Linked DNA regions of Homo sapiens: region 1 is linked to region 2. The links come from fine-mapping of genetic effects on gene expression. A gene starts in region 2. The other region holds a variant in brackets. All regions are shown on one strand. Distances are between the middles of the regions. Region 1 has its middle 42 kb from the start of LINC03011. Region 2 holds the start of RABGEF1 (RAB guanine nucleotide exchange factor 1).

What was found. PIP is the estimated chance that this variant, and not a neighbour inherited with it, causes the effect.
Region 1: its variant is fine-mapped to the expression of RABGEF1 in whole blood (TOPMed, PIP above 0.99). The same link has a PIP of 0.9 or more in T cells.

What each region holds. Positions count from the first base shown.
Region 1 is chr7:66,443,567-66,459,320 of GRCh38, forward strand. It overlaps the pseudogene RABGEF1P2. Among named protein-coding and RNA genes, the nearest start is that of LINC03011, 42 kb to the right of the region's middle. The variant AAG/A (reference allele first, on the strand shown) is at 6,331.
Region 2 is chr7:66,734,551-66,750,304 of GRCh38, forward strand. RABGEF1 (RAB guanine nucleotide exchange factor 1) reads left to right here and starts at 6,183. Exons shown (of 9, transcript NM_014504.3): 1 at 6,183-6,242. RefSeq lists enhancers at 5,797-5,846, 5,860-6,526 and silencers at 5,977-6,246, 6,267-6,406.

The DNA.
Region 1 (15,754 bases), 290 kb before region 2:
CTAATAACACTGTTTCAAAACACATAAAACAAAATTTGATAGAACTGAAAGGAGAAACAAATTCACAATGATATTTGGAGATTTCAATAATCCTCGCTTAGTAATTGACAGAGAGATATTTTTAAAAAGTCAGTAAAGACAGAAAACTTGAATGATGTTATTAACCAACTTGACCTACCTGACATTGACAGAACACTCAACCCAATAAAAACATAATACATATTCCATCTGACAAAATAATAATGGTAGTATAAACTTACATATAGGTAATGTCTATTATGCACTAGGTACTTTTACAATGCTATTTTGTATAATCTTCACAAGTCTATCAGGTAGTACACTTATGATATTTACAAATGAGGAAGCTGAGGCTTGAATATGTTAAGTAACTTGAATAATGTTGCAGTCACTTATAAAGACTGGAATTTGAACCCAGGTCTGTGCACTTAAATCCAAACCCTGAGCTGTTGACTATGCTATAACTACACCTCAGTAAGCCAGAGAGGACTGAAGACTCTTTAGAATAACACCAATCCCTCTGACTTTGGAGGTCTGTACACCAGTCAAAGACAGGAAAACCCTACTCATTTCCTTTATTGCTTTGCTTACAACATGCTTCCCTCCCACACATACTTTTCCAAAGGACACTTTTGCTTAAAAAAGAAAAAAAATCTCCTTTTAAAATGTAAATGAAGATTAATTCTATTAGCTAGTTATGACCATACAAGTTACTAAAATCAACACTTTGTTGTTTTTCTCTAAGCTTCCTAAAAATCAACCCCTATTAAGAGGCCACAAGTTTGGATTAGAGAGGGGAAAGTGAGAGACAGTTCAGGTGTTTGGTACACAGGGAGGAGGTTAGTTATGTTTGAACAGCCAATAGGGATTCAGTGTGTAAGGTGAAAGAAGTGAAGAAGAAGGAAATATGGAAAAGAACAACCTCACCCACATTACAGTTCATAGTTTTGGCTAGGGCTCAAATGGCAAGTGCTTGCTCTTCAACTTAAAGTCACCTTGCGTTTTTGTTTGTTTGTTTGTTTGTTTTTTTAATCAGGGTCTCGCTCTGTCACCCAGGCTGGAATACAGTGGCACGATCACAGCTCACTGCAGCCTCAACCTCCCAGGCTCAAATGATCCTCCGACCTCAGCCTCCAGAGTAGATGGGGCTACAGGCACTAGCCCGGCTAATTATTATTATTTTTAAGAGATGGAATCTCACTATGTTACCCAGGCTGGTCTTGAACTCTTGGGATCAAGCGATCCTCCTGCCTCAGTCTCCAAAATGCTGGAATTACAAGCATGAGCCACTGGACCAAGCTGCACCTTATGTTTTTAATACAGAAACAAAGCTTGTATTTCAGGAATAGCAAGTAGACCATGATTATCAAGCCTTCCATTGCCCAATCTCTCTCTTTTTTTTTTTTTTTTTTGAGGAGTCTCACACTCTGCAGCCCAGGCGGGAGTACACCGGCGCATTCTCGGCTCACTGCAACCTCTGCCTTCCAGGTTCAAGTGATACTCCTGCCTCAGCCTCCTAAGTAGTAGGGATTACAGGCATGGGCCACCATGCCTGGCCAATTTTTGTATTTTCAATAGAGACAGGGTTTTGCCATGTTGGCCAGGCTGGTCTCCAACTCCTGGACTCAAGTGATCTGCCTGTCTCGGCCTCCCAAAGTGTTGGGATTACGGGCGTGAGCCTCTGAACCTGGCCTGTCTCCATGCTTCTTCCACAGCCTGCAGAACTGTGAGCCAAATGAACCTCTTTCCTTTATAAGTAACCCAGCCTCAGGTATTCTTCTATAGCAATGCAAAGGGATTAAGCCATTGTTTTATGTACCTTACAGGATAGCTACCAAATTCAGGAAAATTTACATTGATAAAATACTTTTACTCAATTGAAAATCCATATTCCAAGTTTCTCAATTGTTCACAATGAGCAGTTCACAATTTTCCCAACCTTTGTTTCTCTCAGCATGACACTTCTGAAGAACACAGGCCAGGTATCTTGTTGAATGCCATTTAGATTGGGTGTCCTCATGACTGGATTCAGGTTGTTAAAAATTTTCGGCTTAGATATTTCATAAATGATGTTGTGTTCTCAAAGTGTCATGTCTGGAAGCACACATGACATCTATCCTTGCCTCCTACATCCCCATTTTATAGTTACCATTTCTCTATTTATAATTAATAAATAATCTGGCTGGGCATGGTGGTTCACACCTGTAATCCCAGCACTTTGAGGCTACAGTGGTGGGATCACTTGAGGCCAGGAGTTCAAGACCAGCCTGGGCAACACAGCGAGACCCACCTCCCGTCTCCACAAAAAAAGGAAAAAAAGAAAAATAAACACATAAATAATTCATTGGCAGTGAATTTGAGATCATGTTCGTAACTTGTTTCCTGGGAAACTCCCTCCCCTCATCCAAGATTTAGCACCCAGATAAACTTTACCTGAATCAATTTTTGCTACTAACATGACTATAACCTCTCATTTGTGTATTTCTCTATTTTTTTTTATTTTTTTTTTATTTTTGAGATGGAGTCTTGCTCGTTGCCCCGGCTGGAGTGCAATGGCATGATCTCGGCTCAGCACAACCTCCGCCTCCCGGATTGAAACGAGTCTCCTGCCTCAGACTCCCAGTAGCTGGGATTGCAGGCATCTGCCACCACGCCTGGCTAATTTTGTATTTTTTTAGTAAAGACGGGTTTCTCCACGTTGGTCAGGCTGGTCTCGAACTCCCAAGCAAAGGTGATCCACCCACCTCGGCCTCCCAAAGTACTGGGATTACAGGCGTGAGCCCCCGTGCCAGCTGTATTTCTCTATTTTACTAGTTAAATTAACACACGGATTATTATTTTGTTCAGTTATACTTCATTTATTGTCCTTATTTATTGATTTCTTCACTTTATTTTTTTTTTAAGACGGAGTCTCGCTTGTTGCCCAGGCTGGAGTGCAGTGGCACGATCTCAGCTCACTGCAATCTCCACCTCCTGGGTTCAAGCCATTCTCCTGACTCTGCCTCCCAAGTAGCTGGGATTACAGGCACACACCTCCACACCTGACTAATTTGGTATTTTTAGTAGAGATGGGGTTGTGCCAAAAAAAAAAAAAAAAAGACAGAGATGCGGTTGCACCATGTTGGCCAGGCTGGTCTCGAACTCCCGACCTTAGGTGATCTGCCTAACTTGGCCTCCCAAAGTGCTGGGATGACAGGTGTGAGCCACCGTGCCCGGCCTTATTGTCCTTGTTTATTTTGACACTCAAATTATCCCAGACTTGGCCAGTGGAAACCCCTCCAAGCTGGCTTCTAGATCTTCTGAAATGTAACCAAAATATTGAAGGGGCCTTTTTTTCCCTGCCCCAGCCCCAGAATCAGTCATTTCTCTAAGAAGCCCTGGCTCACTTTAATGAATAATACTATTTAGAATCTAAGGTCTGGGTGGTATTGGTATTTTAACTCTAAAAAAGAAAAGATACGCTTTGGAGGATCACTGTCTTTAGATCTGTTTGTGAAAGAGGTACACAAGATTCTACTTGGGATGACAAGATTATAGGAGTTCTGAAAGAAAAGGGCACTTTGGAATGTATAAGCAAGTGATCTCAGCTTGGCCAACCACTATGACTTCCTCTATACAGCTCACTCACCATGACTGTGGAGACTAAAACACTTTAACTGAGTCTTTACAGTCAAGACATTCCATTTACTTTCTCTGAAAGTGAATCCAACTCTAAAAAAATGTGAAAATATTCTTCAAATTCCTTAGAAGGTTATTTGTATTTTGTCTGCTACCAAGCTGCTGTGTATGGCGAAAAGCTTTCCTTTATGTTACTAACAGAAACAAGCAAAATACCAAGAGCAAGGGCATCACGGACTAAAGAAGATCAAGAATACAAAATCCAAAAAGTCTGTTTCTAGTCTAGACCCAATACATTAAAACTGCACTTAGGCTAACCTTATCCAAACACGATGGCCAAACAAGTAATCAGTGTGAAATGCAAAATTTACCTGGCTAACTTATATTAAGTGATCTGTGAAACAAAGACATAATGGAATCTTCTCTTCTAACATAAATTTTCAAATACTTTAAGATCTTTATCCCCAAAGCTTTCTACTGACAAAAAGCAACTAAAGAACAAAAAATAGAAAGTACAAATCTACCATTCAAAAAGATGCGGGGTGGGGAGAAACAAGAACAAAGGTAAAAACCATTCTGCATACACATTTTTAAAATAAAAGTCACTTGGATTGTTTCTTTTTTTAACTAATTAATTTTTTCAAAGATGGTGTCTCACTCTGCTGCCTAGGCTGGAATACAGTGGCACAATCACAGCTCACTGCAGCCACTAACTCCTGGGCTCATGTAATCCTCCTACCTTAGTCTTCCAAGTAGCTGGGATTATAGGTAGGTACAAGCCACTGCACCCAACTCGAGAATGGTTTCTTTTTAAAGTACAGACTCTGCACTAAATTGTAAATCTTCTTTCCATAGTATCATGCACACTGTACAGAGGCTTTTGGGACACAGGTTTTTAAAACCACCAAGGAGAGTCAGCGAATATAAATGACAATTATGTACTTAAGTAACAGAAACTTGATTATATATATATATTTACTATTTATTATATACATTAAATAACCTGGGTTTCTGAAGTATACACATTGAATAAAGGAATATAATGGAAAAATATTGACCCAGGAGTTAGGAAACCTGAGTTCTCATGCACAAACTCATCGTTCAACCTTGGGTAAATTAGTTAACCTTTATGGACTTTCATATTGTCATCTGCAAAATGAGGCTATTAGAGCTGATAATTCGATGATTTTTTTTACTATTTCATCTGTTATCATACTTACCATTTCACTACATATCATCAAGAAACAGACTTTAAGCTAAATAGGAATGAAGGAACTTAATAATAAATGGCCTTGAGCTCCCTGCAAGATTATTCTATCAGAAGAATAACTTGCATTTTAAAAAAGCTAACACTTACTGGAGATCTACTGTGTGTGTCGGGCACTGTGCTAAGCTCTTTACATATGTCAACTAACTGAATCCTCATCAAATGTCTCTGATAGGTATTACTGTCCCTCAGTGTGGACAAGACTTGGTTAGTCCGCCCAGGGTCACAAAGCTGGTAAATGACAAAGCTAGGACTCAAATCAAGAGTGACTCCAAAGTCACCTTACTAACCACCTGAAAATTTCACCTCCTAATAAATAAATCATAAGCTGAATACATTCTTATTTAATCTCTGGCAGGTGCTAATTTTTTTCCCCTTTTTAGTAGAGACAAAATAGCTAAAACTGGCAGCCAACCAAGAAACAACTTCAAATTAATCATGTAATCATGCCACTGTGCCCAGGGAATTTTTGTATTTTTTGTAGACATGGGATTTCACCATGTTGCCCAGGCTGGTCTCAAACTCCCGAGCTCAGGTGATCCATCCATCGTGTCCTCCCAAAGTGCTGAGATTACCAGGCATGAGCCACTGCACCTGGTATCAATGTCTTAAAGAGAACTGTGTTTTTGGTAAGCAATATTTCCTTTTATTTCCTTATAATAAAACAAAAGGAAACAGCAAAAGTCACAAAACCTAGAAGACTGGCAAGGGTCTTAAGGGTAACAGTGTCTTATTATTCATTCCCCTGCCTCCAGGGGAGACCTCATTACAATTACCCCAGGGTAGGAACTGGGGAGCAAGTGATGGGGCTCCCAGAGAACAGGTCTTCTGACAGCATCAGTGTTGGTTCCCAGTCTCCCTCATCATTTCACATTAACTGTATAACTGAGTACCAACATAAATTTTCAGAGACCGAGGCCTAACCACAGAGATTCTTTCTTGCTTCACGTTGGGCCATTCAACTGGCTTGTCTGCTCAATTATAGAACAACTGTGACTTAAGTGACAATCTTCTTGCTGGTCATATGGCATTTTAAGAAGCCAGGTGAATATGATCACCTACATACAAATCCATGCACTGGAAAATAGCTACTATGGCTCACTTTCATCCCTCCAGGAGCCCAATGTGGGCCTTTTCCTATATGTTCTCAAGACACAAGCTGTCTCTCAAATAAGCTCTCGGGCAGAAAATCTCTCTCTCAGATGACTTTCAAGCCTAGAAATCACCATTTCTGACAAGCTATGAACAGTGAGGGTATTACCACAGAACAAACCAGGATCCACAAATAAAGGCACAAAAACCAAAACATCCAAAGAGATAGTCATTTGGATGGGGATGAATTTCATAAACAAAACTATCTATTTCAATTCTCTTTATTCCTCCTACAGAGTAAACAAATTTCTCTAAAACACAATGTCTTTCAACTA[AAG/A]AGAGTATTGGTTTCATATATTGTCTGACCCTCAAGCCCAATTTCAGTGTCAAATCTGAGCTGATGATCTCAAAAAGTTGACAGAAATTACAAAGCTGAGCCTATGAGCATTGGGGATCTCCTCTGTGTCTCACTCAGGCAGAGAAGAAAAAAAAGAGTATCACAACATTACCCTTCTTTGATCCGACCCTGGAAGACGTACTGAAGATTTCTTCACTGTGGTAATCTTGCGGGTCTTCTCGTTGGTTTTCTTTCCTTCAAACTTGGAGAATGTGAGGGATTGGGCCCCTTGGCTGCTCTGACTGCTGGCAAAGGCCTCTTCTTCCTCCCGCTGGAGTCTGCAATTCAAGAGAGGATTAGAATGATCTAGATATTCTCCAAGATTTCTCTGTATCTGAAGGTTATTACTCCATTAATTCAGGAGGATCTAAAGATTTTAGAACTAGAGACTAAATACGCCAAATCAGTCTGAGGTCTCACATAGCTACAGGATGGACGGCTCTTCATGCACTACAGATTTCAAATGGCATCTTCTCATGCTCATTCAGCAACTGGTCTAGGGTTACATGAAAGAAATCAAGTCTAGTCCTTTTCCCCAACAAGCTCAGTGAAATAAATAAAGTCTAGTCCTTTTCCCTAACAAGCTCAAGCTTGGAACAAACAAAAAGGTAAGTAAACAACTGCTATATAATGGGACAGCTGCTACATCAGAGAGTAAAAATTGAGTGCTATGAGAACACAGGAAAGAACAACACAATCTGCTGGAGGAGTCTGATGAGGCTTTACAACGGTGATGTTTGGGGTGAGTCTTAAAGGACAAATAGGATCCTTTTTTGTTTCTGTTTTTTTTTGTTTGTTTGTTTTTTGAGACAGAGTGTCACTCCATCACCCAGCCTGGAGTGTAATGGCACGATCTCAGCTCACTACAACCTCTGCCTCCCAAGTTCAAGCAATTCTCATCCCTCAGCCTCCCAAGTTATTGAGACTACAGGCACACACCACCACGCCTGACTGATAAGGATGATTAGGATTCTAAGTGAAAGGACATTCCAGGAAGAAGGAACTACAAATGTGCAAGCCTGTGGTTTGCTTCACAATAAACTGAATGTAGCCAGAGCACTGGGCGTGTGATGAACTGTGATGCTGGATACACAGGAAGGCACCAGAGGGTAGGGAATCTTGCCTGCTAAGCCCATTGCTAAGCCTATTCTGGATTTCATCATGTGGTGGGGAAGCAAGAAAAACTGCAAGTCCAAAAAGTTATTGTTGTCAGATCTGTGCTTTAGAAAGATCATGCAGGTAGCTATGTGAACAACTTGAAGGATAGAGAAACTAGAGACACGGACAGGAATTAAGCGTATATTATAAAGGTTCAAGTAAAAGAAAATAAATACCTGGAAAAGAAGAGGAGCAAAGATAAAATGCAAAAGACTTTTCTAAGTTGGAACAAATGGAACTTGGTCAAATTGTAGGTGCCAAGGGAGGTTAAAGAGAAATCAAGAATGAAACCAAGGTTTTTTAGCTAACTTGGTAAACAATGATGCCATTAATTGACTCAGGAGAAGGGTTAGGAGGAAAATGTTCAGAATGCGGAGAATAATAAATAAAAGCAATAAATTTGGGTTTGGATTAGCTGCATGTGAACCATCTGTAATAAATCCCAAAAACAGGCCGGGTGCGGTGGCTCACGCCTGTAATCCCAGCACACTGGGAGGCCAAGGCAGCCGAATCACTTGAGCTCAGGAGTTTGAGACCAGCCTGGGAAACATGGTGAAACCCTGTCTCTTCATAAAATACAAAAATTAGCTGGGCGTGGTGGCATGCTCCTGTAGTCCTAGCTACTTGGGAGGCTGAAGCAGGAGGATCACTTGAGCCTAGGAAGCAGAGGATGCAGTGAGTTGAGATTGCACCACTGTACTCCAGCCGGGGTGACAGAGCAAGACCCTGTCTCAAAACAAAACAAAAAACTCAAGCACTATCTATAAGACAGTGGTTCTCCAAGCGTGGTTCCCCAGACAGCAGCAGCACCATCACCAGGCAACTTGTTAGAAATGCAAATTCTCTAGTCTTACTCCCAAACTACTAAAATCAGAGACTCTGTGGGTAAGGTCCAGCAATCACTGCTTTCACAAGCTTTCCAAGAGATTTAGCAGGGTCACAATTAAAAGCAGTAAGAAATAGAAACAAAAATCACAGGGGAGGTGCTAAGTCTGAGTATGGAATCGGGACACTTCTTTCTCTGGGACGGACAAGAAGTTAATATAAAGGTATTAGTACATTTTTATGTGGCGAAGGGAGTAAGCTGAGGCAGTTCGTGCCTAGTGGCCTCTACTCTGTTTTTGAAACAGGATCTGCTACTGACAACATCAGGCATGCAGTGGAAACCCTGAGGAGATCATTCATGTTCTTGGCTAAAATTTTCTCTTTGATGACCACAGTCACTGAAAGCAATGTGTAATTTCTAATTCTCTGAGCTCACCACAGGTGCCAGCAAAGTAGTCACTCAACAAATATTGGCTGACTGGATGAAAAAACAAAAAAACTAGCAAGAAGAGTTGGCAGAATTCCATTTGCCTTTCTTCTGTTGAAGCAGTTTTAGAATTTCTAAAATGCTCTGGCAAAGAATTAACATTATTCATGGCATTTTATTAGTTCCTATGCTCAGTAGCCATCCCATCATTTAATTTTTTTTTTTTTGAGACAGAGTCTCACCCTGTCGCCCAGGCTGGAGTGCAGTGGCACAGTCTCAGCTCACTGCAACCTCCGATACCTGGGTGCAAGCAATTCTCCTGCCTCAGCCTCCCAAGTAGCTGAGATAACAAGTGCACACCACCACGCCTGGCTAACTTTTTAAATATTTTTAGTAGAGATGGGGTTTCACCATATTGGTCAGGCTGGTCTCAAACTCCTGACCTCAGGTGATCCTCCCACCTCAGCCTCCCAAAGTGCTAGGATTACAGGCATGAGCCACTGCGCCTGGCCCATTATTTAATTTTTAACATCATTATATTTCCAGATAATACAAACTGCCTTTGAGTAACCTAATTTTTAAGGAAAAGTTAAATTTCTATAATGCAAGGACTATGTATACAAGTCAACAGATTTCTACTACTGTGTTTTATCACTGAGCTAGATGCCACGCTGAATATATTAAAAGAATGAGGGAAATAATGCTTGATGAGTGCCATTTGCAAGCCCTGCACTGGGTACATCATATTTATTAGCTCATTTAATCTTCACCAGGAAATATGCCTATCTCCATTCTTCCATTCCAAGGAGCTTATTGTCTACATTTGAGAACCAAGATTAACATAACCCAAAGAATATAATCAGAAGTTAAGACATACAAAAAATGAAGAAAATACTCAAAGCTGTTCATTAAAGGTTGACTGAGAAGAAGAGGGGAAAACATCCTTTTCCTTAATTTTAAACTGACTTGCTGATAGGTCAAAGCAGAAATTTAAAAAAATGTATTTGGATGGTGACAGAAGTATGTATCCAGTCACGCCACTGTTCAACCGCCCCTAGTTAAGTCCTTTTACCACTCCGCCAGCTCCCAGTCCTCCTGAATCTCCTTCTGCCTAGCTTTGTGGTACTCTTCCCTCCAGCACTTGGAGCAGAAACCCTGCCAGTCAGGGTTGCCGTAGTAACCACATCCTTTCTTGCACAGGAGGTCCGACTGATGCACATGAATTCCTCAGCGTTCAGACTTAAGGCTCATCTTCTTACTGCTAACCAATGAACAAATGACAAAGTGCTGTTGAAAAGGAATTATCATTCTACTAACTAAAGTCTTAGCAATTATGAAGAAAAAGTGAGTGCTTCCATTATCTTCAGGCTGTAAGAGAGGGAAGAAGGGAATGAAGGAGGGAGGGAATGAGGGAGGGAAAGAGAGGAGGAAGGAAGAAGGAAAAAGGAAAAGTTAACTATGGTAAATTCCTGAAACAGTCATATTAAAGACTTATTCCCTGCCGAAAATACACAGAACCCATTAAGAAAGGGCTAACATTGGATTAAATACCTAAATGTAAAGGCTGGAAACTAGAAAACTTAGGGGAAAAGCTTCCCAACACTGGATTTTGCAATGACTTCTAGGATATGACACCAAAAGCACAGGCAACAAAAGCAAAATCAGACAAATATATTAATTACATCAAAATTTAAAATGTCTGCACAACACAGGAACCAACTGACAGAGTAAAAAGGAACAACACACAGAATGAGAGAACATATCTGCAAACCACATATATAATAAGGGGTTAATATCCAGAATATAAAGGAACTCCTACAAGCCAATAACAAAAAAAATAATAATAATAATCTGGTTAACAAATGGGAAAAGGACTTCAATAGACAATTCTCCAAAGATATACCAACAGCCAACAAACATGTGAAAAAATGCTCAACATCACTAATCATCACGGAAATGCAAATCAAAACCACAATGAGATATCACTTCATACCCATTAGGATGGCTACTGTAAAAGAAAACAAACCCACGATGGGCATAGTGGCTCATGCCACTTTGGGAGGCCAAGGTGGGAGGATCACTTGAGGCTAGGAGTTCAGGACCAGCCTGGGCAACACAGCAAGACCCCATCTTTACAAAAAAATACAAAAACTAGTGGGGTGTGATGGTGTATGCCTGTAGTCCCAGCTACTCGGGAGGCTGACAGGAGGATCGCCTCTCCAGGAGATGGAGGCTGCAGTGAGCTATGATCACATCACTGCACCCCAGCCTGGGTGACAGAGCAAGGCCTTGTCCAGAAAGAAGAGAAGAGAAAAAAATTGAAGTAACATCATAATTTCCAAAGTCAGTTTTCTTTTCCACTGTGTAATATTTAAACTCATTTGTTCATAGTCTCACAGCTGTATGGTAAATCGCTATGTAACAATTTCCTTTCAAACTGAAACCACATGGTCCTCATTCTTCTCCACAATAACAAACTGCCAAAGAAGCACAGTAAAAAAGCAGCACTCTACAGCATTCATTCAAGAGACTCACATGTGCAGATAAAATTAGGCCCTATATCTTGGAGGTCTCATTAATTTAACTCAAACATTTACTAAGTGCCAACTGTGTGCAGAGAATTAAGCTAGATGGCACTGGTGATGCAACGGATAGAACACGTCCTTGCCCTCATGAAGCTCATAACCAAAAGTACAGCCAGACTGAAAAACGCGGAAAAAGGGAAAGTGTTAGGAAACTGTTGGGGAGTAACACACATACAAATTCTGACCTAGTGAGTATAGAGAGACCACTTGGGGATGCTGGTGATAGACCTTAAAGAGCCTTGTGTTGAAAGGGTCTTGGAAACATGACAGAAAGAGGAAGGATATTCTGGACAGGAAGAATGCCTTTCACAAAAAGCTCAGAAGCAGGAAGGCAAATGTAAAATATGAATGATGTAGTATAGACAGAAGGTAAACTAAAGAAGTTAGGTGGGAAGTCAAATCATCATGGATTTTTAAAACTCGAAGCTACCAAGTGCGGATGGAGAGTCACCAGCTATCAAACCTGACAGTATACAGTGTGCACTACTTTTGAGGATTCTGAAAAGCAAAATGGAGATGTGGGGAAGACCAGAATTGAAAGTATCACCCAGCCATCTAAGAGATTACCACTTTCTCCCATTCAATACCACCAGCCAACCTGGAAATGGGCCCCACAGCACAGAGAAAGCTCTTCTAGTTGGGGCTTCAGGCATGTGAAAGGGAAATCCTAACAGCCAGAGAGAATATGGGGATCCCCCCACTTACCATCTCCTCCTTCTCTTGAGCCACAGTGCCCAGCAATCGTGTGCTTTGTCTGCAGCTATGGCTGAAATGAGAGTGCAGGAGCCAAACTCTGAGGCAGGAGAACTATCAATTTTTCCCAATCTCTATCCTTGGTCTCAAATGTGCAGGCAGTGGTGGAAAGACATGGCAGAGTGGAGTAACTAAATCCACAGTTTTCTGGACAAAAGAAAGAAAATATGAGCCCTTTGAGAACAAAAAGTGTGGGAAAAATTGCTGAGGAGAACTCAAGAAAGCAATTTCTAGGCTTACCCTTAGGCTGCATATGCATGGATCTGACGCTATTCCGTACCAAAGGTTTCCAAATTGGAACTAACGGAGAGACCACTATGCAGGTCTCAGATCAGCACATACATGAAACAGATGGAAACAGCACTACAAAACTCTAAACAATATACTGACATTAAAGCCACAGCCCACAGAACCTGTATACCAAACTTGGCAACACAACAAAACACTTTTGCTCTGGGAATAACTGTTTAGAAAATGAAAAGACAAGCTACAGAATGGGAGAAAATAATTGCAAATCACCTATTTGGCAAAGAACTTACATACCCAGAATATATAAAGAACTCTCAAAACTCAGTTGTCAGAAAACAAACCACCCAATTTAAAAATGAGCAAAAAATCTCAACAGACACTTTACTAAAGAAGATATACATACTGGTGTCCCACATTTCCGTGAGAAGCCTTTGCTACATACTGTCCAGTCAAAGATGTTTGTATATTGAACATCCTTACAAGAGAAAGATGATAGCTCCTTCCACAGCAGAAGACAATTTGTTAACTGTCCAGTACAGTAAATATAATGTCTCCCTTCATATCAAAGGTTTGAGACATTTGTTTGCCACCCCTTATGAGATCTGAGTTCCCTGAGCTTGGATTTCCTACTTGTGTCGTTGCCCACAGGGAATTTACAGGGCAAAGGTAGTCCACGTGGACATGAAGCTGGTTCTGCTGATGTCCTGTGACCTGTGTCCTCCTCTTTTGCCTCCAACCCAGGAGTTTCATGTCTTGGGCCAATATCCATGAAACCATGGAGACTAACTTGCTACATTTAAGTAGGGAGAACTCAAAATTCAGGTCCCTTGCAGTTATTGACATGGTGGCAAATAAGCATATGAATACTTGTTCAACATTGTTCAGTCATTAGAGAAATGCAAATTAAAACCACCATGAAATATCACTCAAATCTATTAGAATGGCTAAAATAGAAAATACTGACACAGCCTGGGCAACATGGCAAAACCCTGTTTCTACCAAAAAAAATACAAAAAAAATTAGGGAGCAATGGTGGTGCATGGTTGTGGTCGCGGCTACTCAGTAGTCTGAGGTGGGAGCATCACTTGAGCCTGGGAGGTGGAAGTTGCAGCAAGCCAAGATCACACCACTGCCCTCCAGCCTGGGAGACAGAGTGAGACCCCACCTCAGAAAAAAAATAAATACTGACAATACCAAGCGGTAGCAGGGATGCAGAGCAACTAAAACCCTCATACCTTCCTAGTGGAATGCAAAATAGTACAGACACTAGAGAAAACACTTTTATGGTTTCATAAAAATGTATACATACAATGACCATCCAACCATGCAATCCCTCTCCTGGGTATTTCCTCTAAAGAAATAAAAACTGCTATTTACTCAAAATTCGGTACTTAAACAGTTATAGTAGCAATATTTGTGATGACAAAAAAATGACAACTAAAATATCCTTCAATGGGTGAATGAATAAACAAACTATGGTGCCTCCATACAACAGAATGCTACTCAGGAAAACAACAACAACAACAGGTATTAGTACACCCAACAACTTCGATGAATCTCAGAGGCTTTATGCTGATAGAAGCCAGAATCTTAGTTCCTTCTGGCTGCAGTAACAAAATACCATAAACTGAGTAGGTTATAAAAAACAGAAATTTATTTCTCACAGTTCAGGAAGCTGGCAAGTTCAAGATCAAGAAGTCAACAGATGTTGGTGTCTGGTGGTTCACTGAAGGTACCTTCTCCCTGTGTCCTCACATGGCTAGGCTCTCTGCCGTCTCTTACAGGTGCACTAATCCCAATCATGAGGGCTCCACTTTCATGAACTAATCACCTCCCAAAGGCTCCACCTCCTAGTAGCATCACCTTGTGGTTTAGAATCTCAACATATGAATTTGGGGGACACACAAAGATTCAGACCATAGCAGTCATCTTAAAAGTTTACATACTGTATGATTCCATTTAGGAACTAGGGGTAGGAAAGAATGTGACTATAAAGGATTAGCATAAGAAAGTTTTTTGGGGTGATGAAACTGTTCTGTATTCTGATTGTGGAGGTGTTTACATAAATCTAATAAAATTAAAAAATTCGCAGAACATTATACTCCTCCCAAATCAATTTTACTCTATGATTAAAAAAAAAAAAAAAAAAAAAAACCTCGGCCAGGCATGGTGGCTCATGCCTATAATCCCAGCACTTTGGGAGGCCGAGGCAGGTGGATCACATGAGGGCAGGAGTTCAAGACCAGCCTGGCCAACATGGCAAAACCCCATCTAGTCTATTAAACATACAAAAATTAGCTGGGCATGGTGGCAGACATCTGTAATCTCAGCTACTCGGGAAGCTGAGACATGAGAATCGCATGAACCTGGGAGATGGAGGTTGCAGTGAGCCAAGATCATGCCATTGTGCTCCAGCCTGGGCAACAGAGGGAGACGCCATCTCAAAAAAAAAAAAAAAAAGAAGAAGAAACTTGAGAGGCAATTTCTAGGTTGGATTAGGGAGAAGTACAGAACAGGAGACACGGATACTGACCAAGAGACAACTACAATTAGAGGACTTGAGGTAACACAGTGGGTAGCCAGGCGTGGTGGCGCTTGCCTGTAATCCCAGGTACTCAAGAGGCTGAGGCACGAGAATCGCTTGGACCTGGGAGGCAGAGGCAGAGGCTGCAGTAAGCCGAGATCACACCACTGCACTCCAGCCTGGGCAACAGAGTGAAATCCTGTCTCAAAAATAAATAAATAAATAAGAGGTAACACAATGGGAAGGGAAAGATGACGGGTGGTAATCTACCTTAGAGGTCAGATCTGTAAGAGTTATTTAATGAGACCTCGCGGGGAGAGGGAAATCTAATTAGAAAGAACTCTCAAGTTCACTGTTTACTTCGTCTACAAGGTTAAAGCCTCCCATAGTCAGGATTTAGATCTAAGACACCAGCCATTTATAAATAGTAGATGAGGCTTAGGTAGAAACAAAGAAAATGAGAAGTAGAAAAAAAAAAAAGAAAAGAAAAATAGTCCTAAAATGTTAACCTGCAGAAACTTTAAAGACCATCTACTACGTCCTATTGTAAGAGATGAAGATATTAACATTAAGAAATCATAACTTATTCCATCAAAAAGATATTAAGTGGCAGAGACATCACTAAGCTTCCTTTTTTTTTTTTTTTTTTGGAACACAGGATGTGTCATTCAAGCTGGAGTGCAGTGGCGTGATCACAGCTCACTGCAGCCTTCACTTCCTGAGCTCAAGCAATACTCCCACCACTCAGCCACCATGCCTGGCTAATTGTTGTATTTTTTTGTAGAGGCGGTGTTTTGCCACGTTATCCAGGCTGGTCTTGAACTCCTGGGCTCAAGTAAGC
Region 2 (15,754 bases):
CTCCCAAAGTGCTGAGATTACAGGCGTGAGCCACCATGCCTGGCTAATTTTTTTTTTTTTTTTTTTTTAGTAGAGATGAGCCATGTTGGCCAGGCTGGTCTCGAACTCCTGACCTCAAGTGATCCATCCACCTTGGCCTCCTAAACTGCTGGGATTACAGGTGTGAGCCACCGTGCCTGGCCCCAAAGGAGCACTCCTGTGGGAGACCAATGGGTGCATGATATTGTTGTCATTTCTCGGTCTTCAAAAATGACGGACACTGCTGGTCGCTGTGGCTTCCTCCTGCTCGGTTGGTCACTCCTGCACATGTCTGCAGTAGTGGTGCTCCTGGGGACCCCCTCGCCACCCCACAAAACTGCTCACCACATGGCCAAACAGGTTTGTCTTTTTCCGTGTGATTTCTTCTTTTGCTAGAACATTTATAAAACTCCTTAGGAAGTTTCAGGAACGTTAAGGAAGTTAAGGAAAATTTATGAATGCTTTTCCAGAGGCTAAAAAGAATTTATTTCCTACTAGCTAGTCTAGAATTGTATTACTTATTTATGTAAGTTTTAACTTTATAATCTGTCTGGAGGTCATTTTAGTGTTAGATATAAAGTGTTAGCTAATTTCCTCCCCCCTCAAATGCCTGCCCCATTTCCCATTGTTGTGTAGTGCTTGTGTTATCATGGCTTGCATTTTTAGGTAGGATTGGTTCTTATACATAATCGCTCCTTTGTAGCCTATTCCAACCGTGTGTATCCCTGATCTCACTCCAGCATCACGCTATTAAATGACTGTTCCCTTAGACTATGTTTTATGGAAGACTTTATAGCATAGTAGTTTAGATTATGGGCTTTGAAGTCAAACTGGCAGAGATCCACATAAGACCTTTGCCTCTTAATAAATGTGTGACCTTGGGTGAGTTACCTCACAGTTCCTCATCTGTAAAATGGACTTCTGGGAGGTTGAAATGGTTTGGTTCTGTGCCCCTGCCCAAATCTCATGTCAAATTGTAATCCCTAAAGTTGGAGGTGAGGCCTGGTGAGAGGTGACAGGATCATTGTGGGGGGGGTTTCCCCTTTGGTGCTGTTCTCGTGATGGTGAGTGAGTTATTGTGAGATCTGGTGGTTTAAAATGTGTAGCACCTCCCCCTCTCTCTCTCTTCCCTTTGCTATGGCCATGTGAAGACGTGCCTGCTTTTCCTTCATCCTTCTGCCATGATTGTAAGTTTCCAGAGGCCCCTCCAGCCATGCTTCCTGTACAGCCTCCAGAAGCGTGAGCCAATTAAACCTCTTTCCTTTATAAATCACCCAGTCTCAGGCATTTCTTTATAGCAGTGCAAGAACAAACGAATACAGAGGCCTGTAGTATCTCCCTCACACATTCAGAACAAATTGAGAACTAGATATAGACATCAGATGGCTGATAATAAGGCTGATAAAACATCAGCCTTATTATTGAGTAGAGGTGGTTGCTGTCCACTGTCACAACTTGTATTTAGCATTGCACTGGAGATCCTAGCCAATGCAGTAAGACAGGAAAAGGAAATGAAAGGGATGATGATGGAAAAAAACAAGACAAAAAACAAAGCCTCAGTGGGCATCCTGACATTCACTCCTGCCTTAGATAGACTCAAGACCCCTAGTCATAGGTAATACCAGACCCCCTAGGTCTTCACCCATGCACACACTTTCTCAGATAAACCCTATCCCCAGAAAATTACTATGGAGCACAGCAGAAAATACTGAGAGAGGAGAAACAAGGATGGAAAGCAAGGACAGGAATGTTCCTTTAGCAAAAGTCCTTTCACATATGAGGTAGAGGTGGTGATGGATAGTCTCAGTGCAGTGAACAACCTATACCACTATATGGGGCCATTTAACTTGCCCTATAGACAGAAGAAGAAGGGGAGTGGTAAGAGCATTTTGGGCAAAGAATACAATGTGAGCAAGAGCACTAAGACAGTAAATTCAGGAAGTGAAAGGACACTGAAGGCTTGAGCTCTAGAGCAGTGATAATGAGGTTGAGGTGGAAAGACCTGATTTAAGAGCTATCAGGGTTAGAATGGGTAGGACTTGGCAGGTGATGAGGGTGAGGCAGGTGGATCACTTGAGGCCACGAGTTTGAGACCAGCTCACTACAACATGGTGAAACCCCATCTCTACTAAAAATACAAAAATTAGCCAGGTGTGGTGGCTTGCGCCTGTAATCCCAGCTACTCAGGAAGCTGAGGTAGGAGAATAGCTTGAACCCAGGAGGCAGAAGTTGCAGTGAGCCAAGTTTGCGCCACTGCACTCCAGCCAGGGCGACAGAGCGAGACTCCATCTCAAAAAACAAAACAAAACAAAGTTTTATTTTTATTTATCTAATTATACACACATGCACAGACACCTACGTATACAGACACACACACGTACACACACACGCACACAAATATATATATGTGCTGATGCACTGGGGCTTCCACTGCTCTTACTTGATGTGGGTGATATTATCATCATTATATATATATGAGGGGGGAGAGAGAGAGAGAGAGAGAGTGAGAGAGAGAGAGCGAGAGCGAGAGAGAGAGAGAGAGAGAGAGAGAGAATCTTGCTGTGTTGCCGAGACTGGTCTCAAGCTCCTGGCTTTAGGCAATCCTCCCACCTTGACCTCCCAAAATGCTGGTATTACAGTATTTATTTAATTTTTAGGTGTTTTTTTGTTTCTTGGGGGCTGTTTTTTTGGAGATAGGGTCTTGCTCTATTGCCCAGGGTGGAATGCAGTGGCTGTTCTTCACCAGGGCCATCATGGCTCACTACATCCTTAATCTCCTGGCTCAAGTAGTCTTCTCCCCTCAGCCTCCTGAATAGCTGGGACTACAGGCGTGTGCCACCACACCTGGCTATCCTACGCAATACGAGACTGGGTAGGGGGGGGCAGTCTAAAACAATATGGAGAGTACCTTTAGATCCGGATTTCGGGGCTCAGCCTTGCCATGGGAAGGAGGCATGGTGTGTAGCAGTGGTTACCAGACTTCTTTCAGTAGTTTAAAACAATTAAAAAAAAGATGAAAGACTGATATAGTGCTGTTCTCCTTTAATTTTGCCAAGGAAAGTCTTTTTTAAAAAACCTCTGTTGTTCCTGTCACTTAACACTAAAACGTGGAAAAACACATTCTCAACAACAGCAAAATAGCAGCCAGGCATGGTGGCACTTGCCTGTAGTCACAGCTACTTGTGAGCCTGAGGTGGGAGGATTGGTTGAGCCTAGGAGTTGGAGTCTGCAGTGAGCCATGATCCTACCACCGTGCCCCAGCCTGCTACTGCTAAACAGGTTAGCGGTGTCAGGAGGGTCTTCCCTCTTGCTGCTCGGTGCCTAGAACATTCTTGCCCAGATATTTGCATAGCAGCACAGCTGGCTCCCTCATCTTTTATTCAGGTCACCTCATGAGGCCGCTCCGGTCTATTTTAAAGCTGCAAGCTTCTTGGTTGTGTTTTTTGTTTTTTTTGTTTTTTTTTTTTTTTGAGACAGGGTCTTGCTCTGTCAACCAGGCTGGAGTGTAGTGGCATGATCACTGCTCACTGCAGCCTCAACCTGCCAGGCTCATGTGATCCTATCACCTCGGCCTCCAGAGTAGCTGGGATTACAGGTACAGGCCACCACCTGGCTAATTTTTGTATTTTTAGTAGAGGTGGCGTTTCACCATGTTGGCCAGGCTGGTCTCAAACTCCTGACCTCAGGTGATCAGCCTGCCTTGGCCTCCCAAAGTGCTGGGATTACAGGCGTGAGCCACCATGCCCGGCCAGTCCTCTCTAGCTTAACCTTCACAAAGAAACTTTGAAATGATATTCAGTTTTTGTTACTGCTTTCCTCAGGCCTTTTCTGTCTTTAGCACCAACCTCTTCTGCTCAGCCCATTGAACACTCATTCTGGGCCCAGGGGTCTAGGCTCATGCCTGTAATCCCAGCACTTTTGGAGGCCGGGGTGGGCAGATTGCTTGAGTCCAGGAGTTCGAGACCAGCCAGGGCGACATGGCAAAACCTTGTCTCTACAAAAAAACCCCAAAAACTAGCTGGGTGTGCTGGCACACACCTATCATCCCAGCTACTAGGGAGGTGGAGGCAGAAGGATCACTTGAGCCAGGGAGTTGGAGGCTGGAGTGCGCCGAGATTGCACCACTGTGCTCCAGCCTGGGCAACAGAGTGAGACTCTAACTCAAAAAAAAAAAAAAAAAAGAAACACTCATTCTGTTTCACAGAATGGTTTATAGAATGGTGTGTTGCCTGATTCTGTAATCACAAAAGTCAGTTAAGAGCTTTAAAGTAAATGTTATTCTGTCTTTTGGTAATAGCAATTACCACCATCCAAGGTACTACTGTAAATAATTATTGTTTATTCCCTCCTCCACCTCCTCAGCACAGGTACTTTGTGTTTTTTTGTTTTGTTTTGTTTTTTGAGGAGGAGTTTCACTCGTTGCCCAAGCTGGAGTGCAATGGCGCAATCTCAGCTCACTGCAACCTCCGCTTCCCGGGCTCAAGTGATTCTCCTGCCTCAGCCTCCCAAGTTGCTGGGATTGCAGGCATGTGCCACCATGCCTGGCTAATTTTGTATTTTTAGTAGAGACAGGGTTTCTCCATGTTGGTCAGGCTGGTCTTGAACTCCCGACCTCAGGTGATCTGCCCGCCTCGGCTTCCCAAAGTGCTAGGATTACAGGCGTGAGCCACTGCGCCTGGCCTTACTTTTGTTTTATACTCTGTTGTACCCTCAGCGTAGCACACATTAGGCACTTAGGAAGAATCTGAGAAACGAATCAGTTAATCCCTACTTTACCAATAATGAATAAAGACTGAGAAACTCGGGCCGGGCGCAGTAGCTCACACCTATAATCCTAGCACTTTGGGAAGCCAAGGTGGGCGGATCACTTGAGGTCAGGATTCAAAACCAGCCTGGCCAACATGGTGAAACCCTGTCTCGACTAAAAATACAAAAAAAAAAATATGAGCTGGGCGTGGTGGCGGGTGCCTGTAATTCCAGCTACTTGGGTGGCTGAGGTGGGAGAATCGCTTGAACCTAGGAGGCGGAGGTTGCAGTAAGCCGAGATCGCACGACTGAACTCCAGTGTGGGCGACAGAGTGAGAGTCTCAAAAAAAAAAAAAAAAAAAAAAAAAATAGACTGAAAAATTACGCAACCTGTCCAAGAACACTACAGCGACAATTAGCAAAGCTGGGATTTTAACCCAGGTCTATCTCACAGCCACAGCATAGTATTTTCTTTTTTTTCTTGCTGTGACTGCACGTTACGCCATACATGGCATTCAGGACGCAGAGGAATTAGTATTTACTGTTTTTAACATTCCTTACATGGGAATCACGTAAAGAATCAGGTAAACAGGATTCAATTTGTGACTCAACCATTAATACTTTGTGACACTGGCTAATTTATTTCACTTCTGGATGTCGGTTATGTTTTTTTTGAGACAGGATCTCGCTCTGCTGTCACCCGGCCTGGAGTTCAGTGGAGGGATCTCTGCACCGTCAACTTCCTGGGCTATCAAGCGATCCTCCCACCTCAGCCTCCCTGGTAGTTGGGACCACAGGTGCCCGCCATCATGTCCGGCTGATTTGTAAAATTTCTTTTGTAGAGATGGTGACCTTGCTCTGTGGCCCAGGCTGGTCTCGAACTCCTGGACTCAAGCGATCCTCCTGCCTGGGCCTCCTAAAGATTCAGCTGCTTTTGGATCAACCGATCGCCTTAAGACCTTTTAACTCGAACACCTGTCACATCCTAGGATCCGCGAAGGACTGAAACAGAGTTTCTGAAGCGTCCCTCGGCGCAGTAGCTCCGCTCCACCTCCCATTCGCGCTACCACCGCGGCCGCAGCCCCAGGAGTCGCCGCGGAGCCAGCGTCGCCCTCCAGCTGTTGCGCGTCGGAAGCCGGAAGCAGGGACTGAGCGACAGACTAGGAAACGCCGGTTTCTCCGGGGCTCCCCAGCGCCCCACCTTTACCCCGGAGGCCGCCCTCTTCCATTTGCTCTTGGGCGTCAGGGCGGTACCCCACTCCGCTCGACCCTTTGGATCCACTCGCACTTCCTCCCGTCCAGAGTCAAAGGCCCCGGAAGTGACGTTTACGCGCCGCGCGTAACGTGCGTTCGCTGGCGGTGCCGGGGGCGGGGCGAGCAGGAGGGTGGGTGTGAGGCGGGAGCTGGCCGCGGAGCCCAGACCTACCCGGGCGAAGCGGGCGAGCGGTGGTTTGGACGCCGGCGGAGACGCGGGCGAGGTACGGAGCGGACGGACTGGGGCTGAGAGCTGCTCGGCTCTCAGCTACAGGAGCGGGGCGGCGGGGCGTCTCGGGCTGGGGGTGGCAGGGCGGTCGGTCCGTGCCATCCGCGCGGCTGGGGCAGTTGCGCGTCGGTGCCTCCCGCTGTCCTTCGTCCCACATTCCGTCTCCGTCAGCGCCGCCTTCCCCGTTCCAGGCCGCCCTCGGCTCCCTTAATCCTCAGAGTGCGGCCTCTCCGTCCCAGACGCTAGTTGCCGGGATCTCCAGCGCCAGCCGAGCCCCGACGGCCTGACGCGGAGCATTTCCTGGCCGCCTCCCTCTCCGGCGGCTCCCCTCGCCCCGGCTCCCACCTTCCGTCCAGGCCGCTGGCTCCGAAGCAGCGTCTGTGGTCGCACGGGGCCCCTCCCACAACCTCCCCGGAAAGCGCTGGTATGGGACGCTCGGACCCAGACCACAGCCCCCGGCCGCGGCAGGGGCGCGGGGACTTGATCCCACGTCACCCTAGGGGGCAGAAGTGTCCCGGAGTTGGGAGGGGATTTGAAGCCTGTGGTCCTGACTTCCACCCCGTGGCTGAGGGCGAGGCTGCGGGGCCGGGGTTAGGAGCAGAAGTCCCTGCTTCCGAACCGTCTGGGAGGAGAGCCGAGGGATGCCCATCACGGCAGTTTAGGGAGAGAGAGGGAGGGACTCTGCCGCTTTGGAGGCTAGGTCATAGGCAGCTGGCGGTGTCTCAGCGCGGGTGACCAATCCTTGCGGTTGGGAAATGTGTCGTGGGCGCCCGTGGGCTCGTTTTGCCTTTGAGATTAGGTAGGAAATTTTCCCAGGACGAGTTTACCGGAGCACCTTGGGAGTTGGTTTTTGGCCTGGAGAGCTGCTTTCCCCCCTCTAAACCTAGAACTGCTTTGTTTTTATTTATTATTTTTTTCGACATGGGATCTCACAGTGTTGCCCAGGCAGGTGTGAAACTCCTGGCCTTAAGTGATCCTCCCGCCTCGGCCTCCCAGAGTGTTGGGATTATAGGCGTGAGCCATTGCGCGGCTTTAACTGCTGTTAAAGAGTGTGTTCCGGCCGGGTGCGGTGGCTCACGTCTGTAATCCCAGCATTTGGAAGGCCAAGGCAGGCGGATCATGACGTCAGGAGCTTGAGACCATCCTCCCTAACACGGTGAAACCCCGTCTCTACTACAAATAAAAAAAAAAAAGAAAAAGAAAATTTGCCGGGCATCGTGGCGGGCACCTGTAGTCCCAGCTACTCTGGAGGCTGAGGCAGGAGAATGGCATGAACCCGGGAGGCGGAGGTTGCAGTGAGCCGAAATCGTGCCACTGCACTCCAGCCTGGGCGACAGAGCTAGACTCTATCTCAAAAAAAAAACTAAGAGTCTGTTCCTTAAAATTGTTGTACCAAGAAACTTGCCAGAGATGCAAGAAAATGTGATTATATTGTTAATATTTAATGATAAATAACATTTTGCTTTTAAGAGTCACTGATTCATATCCGCAGGATTAAGAAATGTTCAGGATTTGAATTTTTAATGACCTTCCAAGCAGTCATGTTTCTGCTCTCTAGAAGTTAGCCAGTTGAGGAGAAGGGACAGTCAAGATACTTTCAAAACAGTGTGGTAAGGAATGTGAGCTAAGATGGAGCACCGAGGAAGGAGCCGGGCATTTAGGCCATGCTGTTGGGTGTGGAGCCTGGAAGGGATCAGGGAATACTTTCTGCATGTGTCTTGAAGAATGACTAACATTCAGACTAACAGGGTGGAGTGAGGGAGAGGGGGGAATCAAAGGAGAGGAGGCCAGTAACTACAAGGAGGTGCCTATTAATTTATTTATTGAGAGAGAGGGTCTCACTTTGTCACCCAGGCTGGAGTACAGTGACACGATCACGAGTCACTGAAGTCTCAACTGCCTGTGCTGAAGTGATCCTCCCACCTCAGCCTCCCGAGTAGCTAAGACTGCAGATGCGTGCCACCACACCCAGCTGATTTTTAAATATTTTGTAAAGATGTTGTCTTGCTGTGTTGCCCTGGCTGATCTCAAACTCCTGCACTCAAGCAATCTTCCTGCCTCAAGCGTCCCAAGTGCTGAAATTACAGGCATCAGCTACCGAGCCTGGAGGGTCGTTACTAAAGTGAAAAAGTGCAGGACAGAGATGTAGGAGCTCAGGCTTCCTCTGATGGTGACAGAACCAGGGGAAGTTTTTTAGCTGGGTCCTTGTGTGGTTAAAATGGGTCTCTCTGGCCAGGCGCGGTGGCTCACGCCTGTAATCCCAGCACTTTGGGAGGCCGAGGCGGGCGGATCACGAGGTCAGGAGTTTGAGACCAGCCTGAGCAACATGGTGAAACCCCATCTCTACTAAAAACACTAAAATTAGCTTGGTGTGATGGCGCCTGCCGTAATGCTAGCTACTCAGGAGGCTGAGGTAGGAGAATTGCTTGAACCTAGCAATTCTAGGAGGTTGTGGTGAGCCAAGATTGTACCAATGCACTCCAGCCTGGGCGACAGAGCGAGACCTCGTCTCAAAAAAAAGAAAAAAATTTAAAAAAAAAAAAAAGGCTCTCTCTCTCTCCCTGTCTCCCAGGCTGGAATGCAGTGGCAGGAACACAGCTCACTGTAGCCTCCACCACCCATGCTTAAGCTATCCTCTTGTCTCAGCCTCCCAAGTAACTGGGACCACAGGCCTGCCACCTACTAATTTAGCTTGCCTGGCTAAATTTTTTTTTCTTTTTTTGATACGGAATCTGGCTCTGTCGCCCAGGCTGGAGTGCAGTGGCGCGATCTCGGCTCACTGCAAGCTCCCCCTCCTGGGTTCACGCCATTCTCCTGCCTCAGCCTCCTGAATAGCTGGGACTACAGATGCCCGCCACCATGCCTGGCTAATTTTTTCTATTTTTAGTAGAGATGTGGTTTCACTGTGTCAGCCAGGATGGTCTCAATCTCCTGACCTCGTGATCCGCCCTCCTCGGCATTCCAAAGTGCTGGGATTACAGGTGTGAGCCACCACACTTGGGCTAAATTTTTTTGTAGAGATGGAATCCTTGTATGTTTCCCAGGGTGCTCTCCAACCCCTGGCCTCAAGTGATTCTCTAGCCTCGGCCTCCCAAAGTGTTGGGATTACAAACATGAGCCACTGCACCCGGCCCTAAAATGGAATTTTATGTAACTCTTACACACAGGCTGCTATGTAGCTGATAAGGATAAATGTTTTCAGTGTAGTGCTTGATTATTTGCTTTTTTCTTTTCTTTTCTTTTCTTTTTTTTTTTTTTAAGACGGAGTCTTGATCTGTGACTGGGCTGGAGTGCAGTGGCATGATCTTGGCCACTGCAACCTCTGCCTCCTGGATTCAAGCGATTTGTGTGCCTCAGCCTTCTGAGTAGCTGGGACTGACCATAGATAGGCGCGCGCCACCACGCCCAGCTAATTACTGCTATCTTGTATTTTAATTTTTTCTGCTTATTAGATGTTTGAAATGGTGGCTCACGCCTGTAATCCTCGCACTTTGGGAGGCCAAAGTGGGAGGATTGCTTGAGGTCAGGGGTTGGAGACCAGCCTGGGCAAAATAGCAAGACTGCATCTCTACAAAAAAAAAAAAAAGATAGCCGGGCGCAGTGGCTCACGCCTGTAATCCCAGTACTTTGGGAGGCTGAGGCAGGCGGATCACGAGGTCAGGAGATCAAGACCATCCTGGCTAACACGGTGAAACCCTGTCTCTACTAAAAATACAAAAAATTAGCTGGGCATGGTGGCAGGCGCCTGTAGTCCCAGCTACTCGGGAGGCTGAGGCAGGAGAATGGCGTGAACCTGGGAGGTGGAACTTGCAGTGAGCCGAGATGGCGCCACTGCACTCCAGCCTGGGCGACAGAGCCAGACTCCGTCTCAAAAAAAAAAAAAAAAAAAAGATGCTTGACGTGAATGTATACTCATTTCCTAGTTGTTTCTTTCTATAAGGATGTCTGACCTGGCTAATTTGTAAACAGGAATTCTGCATTCATTTCTCTCTTTGCTTTCTCAACCCCAATTGAGCACACAAGTGTTTAATGAGTACTTAACTGATTTGATAAGAATAACTCATTGATTTCTTTGATTTTTTGTTGCTGGTTTTCAGTGAAAAAAATGTTATCAGCCGCACACGGTGGCTCACGCCTGTAATCCCAGCACTTTGGGAAGCTGAGGCGGGTGGATCATGAGGTCACGAGATCCAGACCATCCTGGCTAACATGGTAAAACCCCATCTCTAATAAAAATACAAAAAATTAGCCGGGCATGGTTGCAGGCGCCTGTAGTCTCAGTTACTCAGGAGGCTGAGGCAGGAGAATGGCGTGAACCCGGGAGGCGGAGCTTGCAGTGAGCCGAGATTGTGCCACTGCACTCCAGCCTGAGCGACAGAGCGAGACTCCATCTCAAAAAAAAAAAAAATGATATCAGTACTTACTCATTGTGATGTCTACATATAGAACTAAAATTCTGTTTACTTATGTGAGTCTTTGGCTAGAGACATAGAATTTCAGTCTTGACTGTGTGAGCTTAATTTCTGGCATGTGGGTTTTTATTGGCTGCAGAGGAAACATCTCTAGCAGAGATGACCTATCCCTCAAATGTAGGAAATACCTGTGTAAACCTAACACCTGTGACTCAGAATAGAAATGGTACCAAGTGAGTGGCTTCTTAGCCCATCAGTAAAGTTATCACACCATAGGCTGGGTGCGGTGGCTCACACCTGTAATCCCAACACTTTGGGAGGCTGAGGTGGGCAGATCACTTAAGGCCAGGAGTTTGAGACCAGCCTGGATCAAGATGGCAAAACTCCGTCTCTACTAAAATGCAAAAAACTTAGCCAGGCATGGTGATGTGCGCCTGTGATCTCAGCTACTCGGGAGTCTGAGGCACAAGAATCTCTTGATCCCGGGAGGCGGAAATTGCAATGAGCCGAGATTGTGCCACTGCACTCCAGCTTGGGCAACAGAGTGAGACTCTATCTCAAAAAAAAAAAAAAAAAAGTGATCACACTAAAACCAAGAGTTTCAGGCTGGTGCAGTGGCTCATGCCTATAATACCAGTGCTTTGGGAGGCCAAAGTGGGAGAATCGCTTGAGCCTAGGAGTTCCAGGCTGCAGTGAGCTGTGATCAAGCCACTGCACTACAGCCTGAGTGACAGAGTGATACCCTGTCTCTATAAAAAGAAGTTTCATAGTACAGGCCAAACATCTTGAAAATCTTATTAAATGTACACTTCTTTCATAGAGCACTGTAGAAACATCATGTGTGTTGTTTCACATGGCTGAAGTGAGTTTAAATGATCTGGACTATTGTTACAATATGTAAACATGTGAAATAACAGTTATCCCACTTAATATTATTTAACTTATGTTTATCTCTTTGATGTTTGGATAAAGCTCCTAAAATGCTTTAGGAAAACATTATACTTTTATGGTGCTGTTTTGAAGTTTCCTGTGAAATTCCTGTTTTCAATGAAGTTACTGTCAGTGGGATAGGAAGTGTGATTTTTTTTTTTTACTTTTCTTTTTTTCTTTTTGAGACGGAGTCTTGCTCTGTTGCCCAGGCTGGAGTGCAGTGGCGCGATCTTGGCTCACTGCAACCTCTGCTTCCTGGGTTCAAGGATTCTTCTGCCTCAGCCTCCCGAGTAGTTAACCACCATACCCAGCTAATTTTTTTTGTATTTTTAGTAGAGACGGGGTTTCACCATATTGGCCAGGCTGATCTCGAACTCCTGACCTCGTGATCCACCCGCCTCGGCCTCCCAAAGTGCTGCGATTACAGGCGTGAGCCACCGTGCCCGGCAGGAAGTGCAATTTTTATTTATAATATAACCTTTTTTTTTTTTTTTTTTTTTTGAGAACAGAGTCTTGCTCTGTCACCCAGGCTGGAGTGTGGTGGCACGATCTCTACTCACTGCAACTTCCACCTCCCCGGTTCAAGCGATTCTTGTGCCTCAGCCACCTGAGTAGCTGGGAATATGGGCTCCTGCCACCACGTCCGGCTAATTTTTTTTTTTGCTGGAGTGAGACTGAGTTTCAGCCTTGTTGCCCAGGCTGGAGTGCAATAGTGCGATCTTGGCTTACTACAACCTCTGCCTCCTGGGTTCAAGTGATTCTCCTGCCTCAGCTTCCCAAGTAGCTGGTGTTAACAGGCACGCGCCACCATGCTGAGCTAATTTTTTTATTTTTAGTAGAGACGGGGTTTCACCATGTTGGCCAGGCTGGTCTCGAATTTCTGACCTCAGGTGATCCACCTGCCTTGGCCTCCCAAAGTGCTGGGATTACAGGTGTGAGCTACCGTGCCCGGCCCTAGTGGAACATTTTAATTTGTTTCTGGTAGCATAGCTCTCTTGGCAATGGTCATTAAGAGGGCCAAATACCATTATTATGATCAATTAATTAAATGTGGTTAAAAGTCAGAAGTTAGAATAAGTATGTGTTCATGAATGCGTAAAATATTACACACTGAGAGAGTATTAAGCTTTTTAATTTTCCCCCAGTAACAGTGAGCAGATTGCTGAAATCTCTGAAGCAGGAATGTAACAAGAGTTTTGAGGGCTCTAAATTCTCTGCTGTTTCACCCTAAGGAATGGTTTGGCAGCATCCTCTATGCTAGGCACAGAACAACTCAGGAGGAATTGTACAAAGACCTTATGAACCACATTTGAAGCTAGTCTGTTCAGTTCCCATTCAAAATAAATACACAACTGTAATTGAATTTATGGTGATTTGGTCTGTATGCTAAAATTAAAAATCGCTTTTGGGGGATTTTCACATAGGGGTATATTTATAATTTTCTGTGTGCTTTGCAGTTAAAAATACATAGTGAAAGTTTTATTTTTGTAGTTCCTCTGTTGTACAGAGGAAATTTAAATTCTTAAAATTAGAATTTTCTAATTTTAAGCACTTTCATTTTTCCTTTAGAAGGTACTTTGGAGCACATAAAAGAAAATGCCATTAGAAATTGAACATAGAAAATGTTTATTAATCGAAGAAAATGTTTTCTTATTGTGCTATAATTTTTTTCAGTGGAACATATCATTTACTTATTCCATTATTCCACATCTTGTTCCAGAAAGGGTTTGTAATGACTTACAAAGATACGTGCGACATACTGTTGGTAACATAACAGATAAGTGGGTGAGGAATGCAGGACTGAGGGAAAATTAAGATGGAAACAGGAATGAGCTGTGTACACAGAGCACTTGGACTGAAGTCTTAAGTGCAGAGGGCCACAAATTTGGCTTTGCTTTTGAGTAGCCAATTAAGAGAGAAATATAATCAGTTACATGGGTCAGTGACCATACGACAAAAGAGATCATTTCTGCTTTGGATTCCCAAAGACTTTCCAGCATGCGTTTCAAAGGGCTGGGTGTCGAGTTTTACTTTGTGTGTTAGTAAAACTCCTTATTGGCTTTTTGTGTAAGACGGTGACATAACATCAAAACATTCCGTAAAAGCATTTCTCTTGCCTGCAAAATAATGTGATCCGAGTACTTAGATCTCTAGGCTGATTTAAGGATCTGTTTTAGATTATCTAGATGAGTAGGTGGATTGCACATTCTTCACCTACCTTCCATACTTTCTCAGTGGATCTTTTGTAATGAATTTATCAGCAGTGGGGTTTGAGTTTGTGCTTCCTCACAAGTTCCTTGAATGCATCTGTTTTCTGTTGTTGGTGAATCACGGAACCATATGTTTTAACAGGCATGGTTTATCGTGGGGGTATCACGATGGAACAGTCTGACAAGGGCACATATTTGTTTGTTTGTTTTTTGAGGAAAATCACTTTATTCTAATTAACTCAACAAAGAATAAAATCATAACGGCTAGTTCAAGGGTGCCACACAAACATCTACCCAGCCATCTTAATGAAATTCTACACAGTAAGAATTTCCTTTTCCATTGCAGTCCTGAAGCAGGGACGCTATGAGAGAGGAGAGGTTTACCTGATGATTACACTTTATACCTTCACTATCAATTGTATTTTTGTGCTAAATCACTTGGTTATGAGAGCTGATTTTCCATTTCTCCAATTCGAACTTTCTGATTAGACCAATCTGTTTGCAAGTCTGCACTGTTTCAGCACCTTATTGAAACCCTCACAGAGTTTTCTGTCACCCTGGTTCTGGGCACTCTCCAAAAACTGTTTTATGTCATAAGAGCAAGGCCGCTGCTGCTTTGCTGGCTGGGTTCCCTGAGGCTCTTGGTAGGTGATATCAGGCCTTCAGGCTCACCGTGACTTCCTCCACTGAAGCCCTGGTGGTGGCATGACCCAGTGTATGTCTGACAGGGGCACATATTTGAATGAAAGCCACCTCACCTCCATACAGAGATGGGCTGAGGGAATACCAAATATGAAGATGGGAGCAGATCCAGATCTACTCGTCTCAGATGAAATGTCCAGTAAGTTGTATTGCCTGTATTTTGCTCCAGCTGAACAGTTGCACTTTCAAGTAATAATAGTTCAAATTTATCAAATGCTAGCAGGAGCCATGCATTGTGTTAATGGAGAGAGACCATCCTTATTCACTCTTACTCAGTAAACAGTGGGTGAAACTGCCCTTGCCTAAATATAGTTATGTAATGCTGTGTTTCCTTAATTGTATATCCATAAAGCTTTTGACATTGTTTTCTAAATGTGTTCCTCAAAAAGGAGTTGGGCTAGTGACCAAAGTTTTGAATAGAATATTGTAAGAAAGCAAATACAAAGTGTAAAAACAAAAAACAGAACTTTGCGAGGTGTTGTTCACCTGTAGTCCCAACTACTTGGGAGGCTGAGGCAGGAGGATTGCCGGAGGTCAGGTATTAGAGGCTGCAGTGCACTATGATTGTGTCTGTAAATAGCCACTACACTCTAGCCTGGGCAACAAAGCAAGACTCCATCTCTAAAAACAAACAAACAGGCCAGGCACGGTGGCTCACACCTGTAATCTCAGCACTTTGGGAGGCCAAGGCGGGCGGATCACGAGGTCAGGAGATAGAGACCATCCTGGCTAACACAGTTAAACCCCGTCTCTACTAAAAATATTTTAAAAAATTAGCTGGGTGTGATGGTGGGCGCCTGTAGTCCCAGCTACTCGGGAGGCTGAAGCAGGAGAATCGCTGGAACCTGGGAGGCGGAGCTTGCAGTGAGCCGAGATCGCACCACTGCACTCCAGCGTGGGCGACAGAGCGAGACTCCATCTCAAAAACAAACAAACAAAACTACAGAATAATGAAATAGAATGTCCAAAATTTATCATAACTGGTGTCTCACGAGATAATACGTTTGGGTCCTGTTTAGCAAGTTGGATTATATTTTTATTTGTGTAAATTTATTGGCCGTTGCAGTTGGGGTTGTATTGAGAATGTAGATTTTGTCTGATGAGAGTGTAGATTTTATTTGTAGTGAGTGCATGTGGATTTTTATTTGTCTAGGGTTTTAAAAGTTGTATAGTCATGAATGGACACTTTTTAATACCATCTATGAGAAATTCAATGGCAAAGTGTTTTCATACCCATATGCTAACTGCTGATG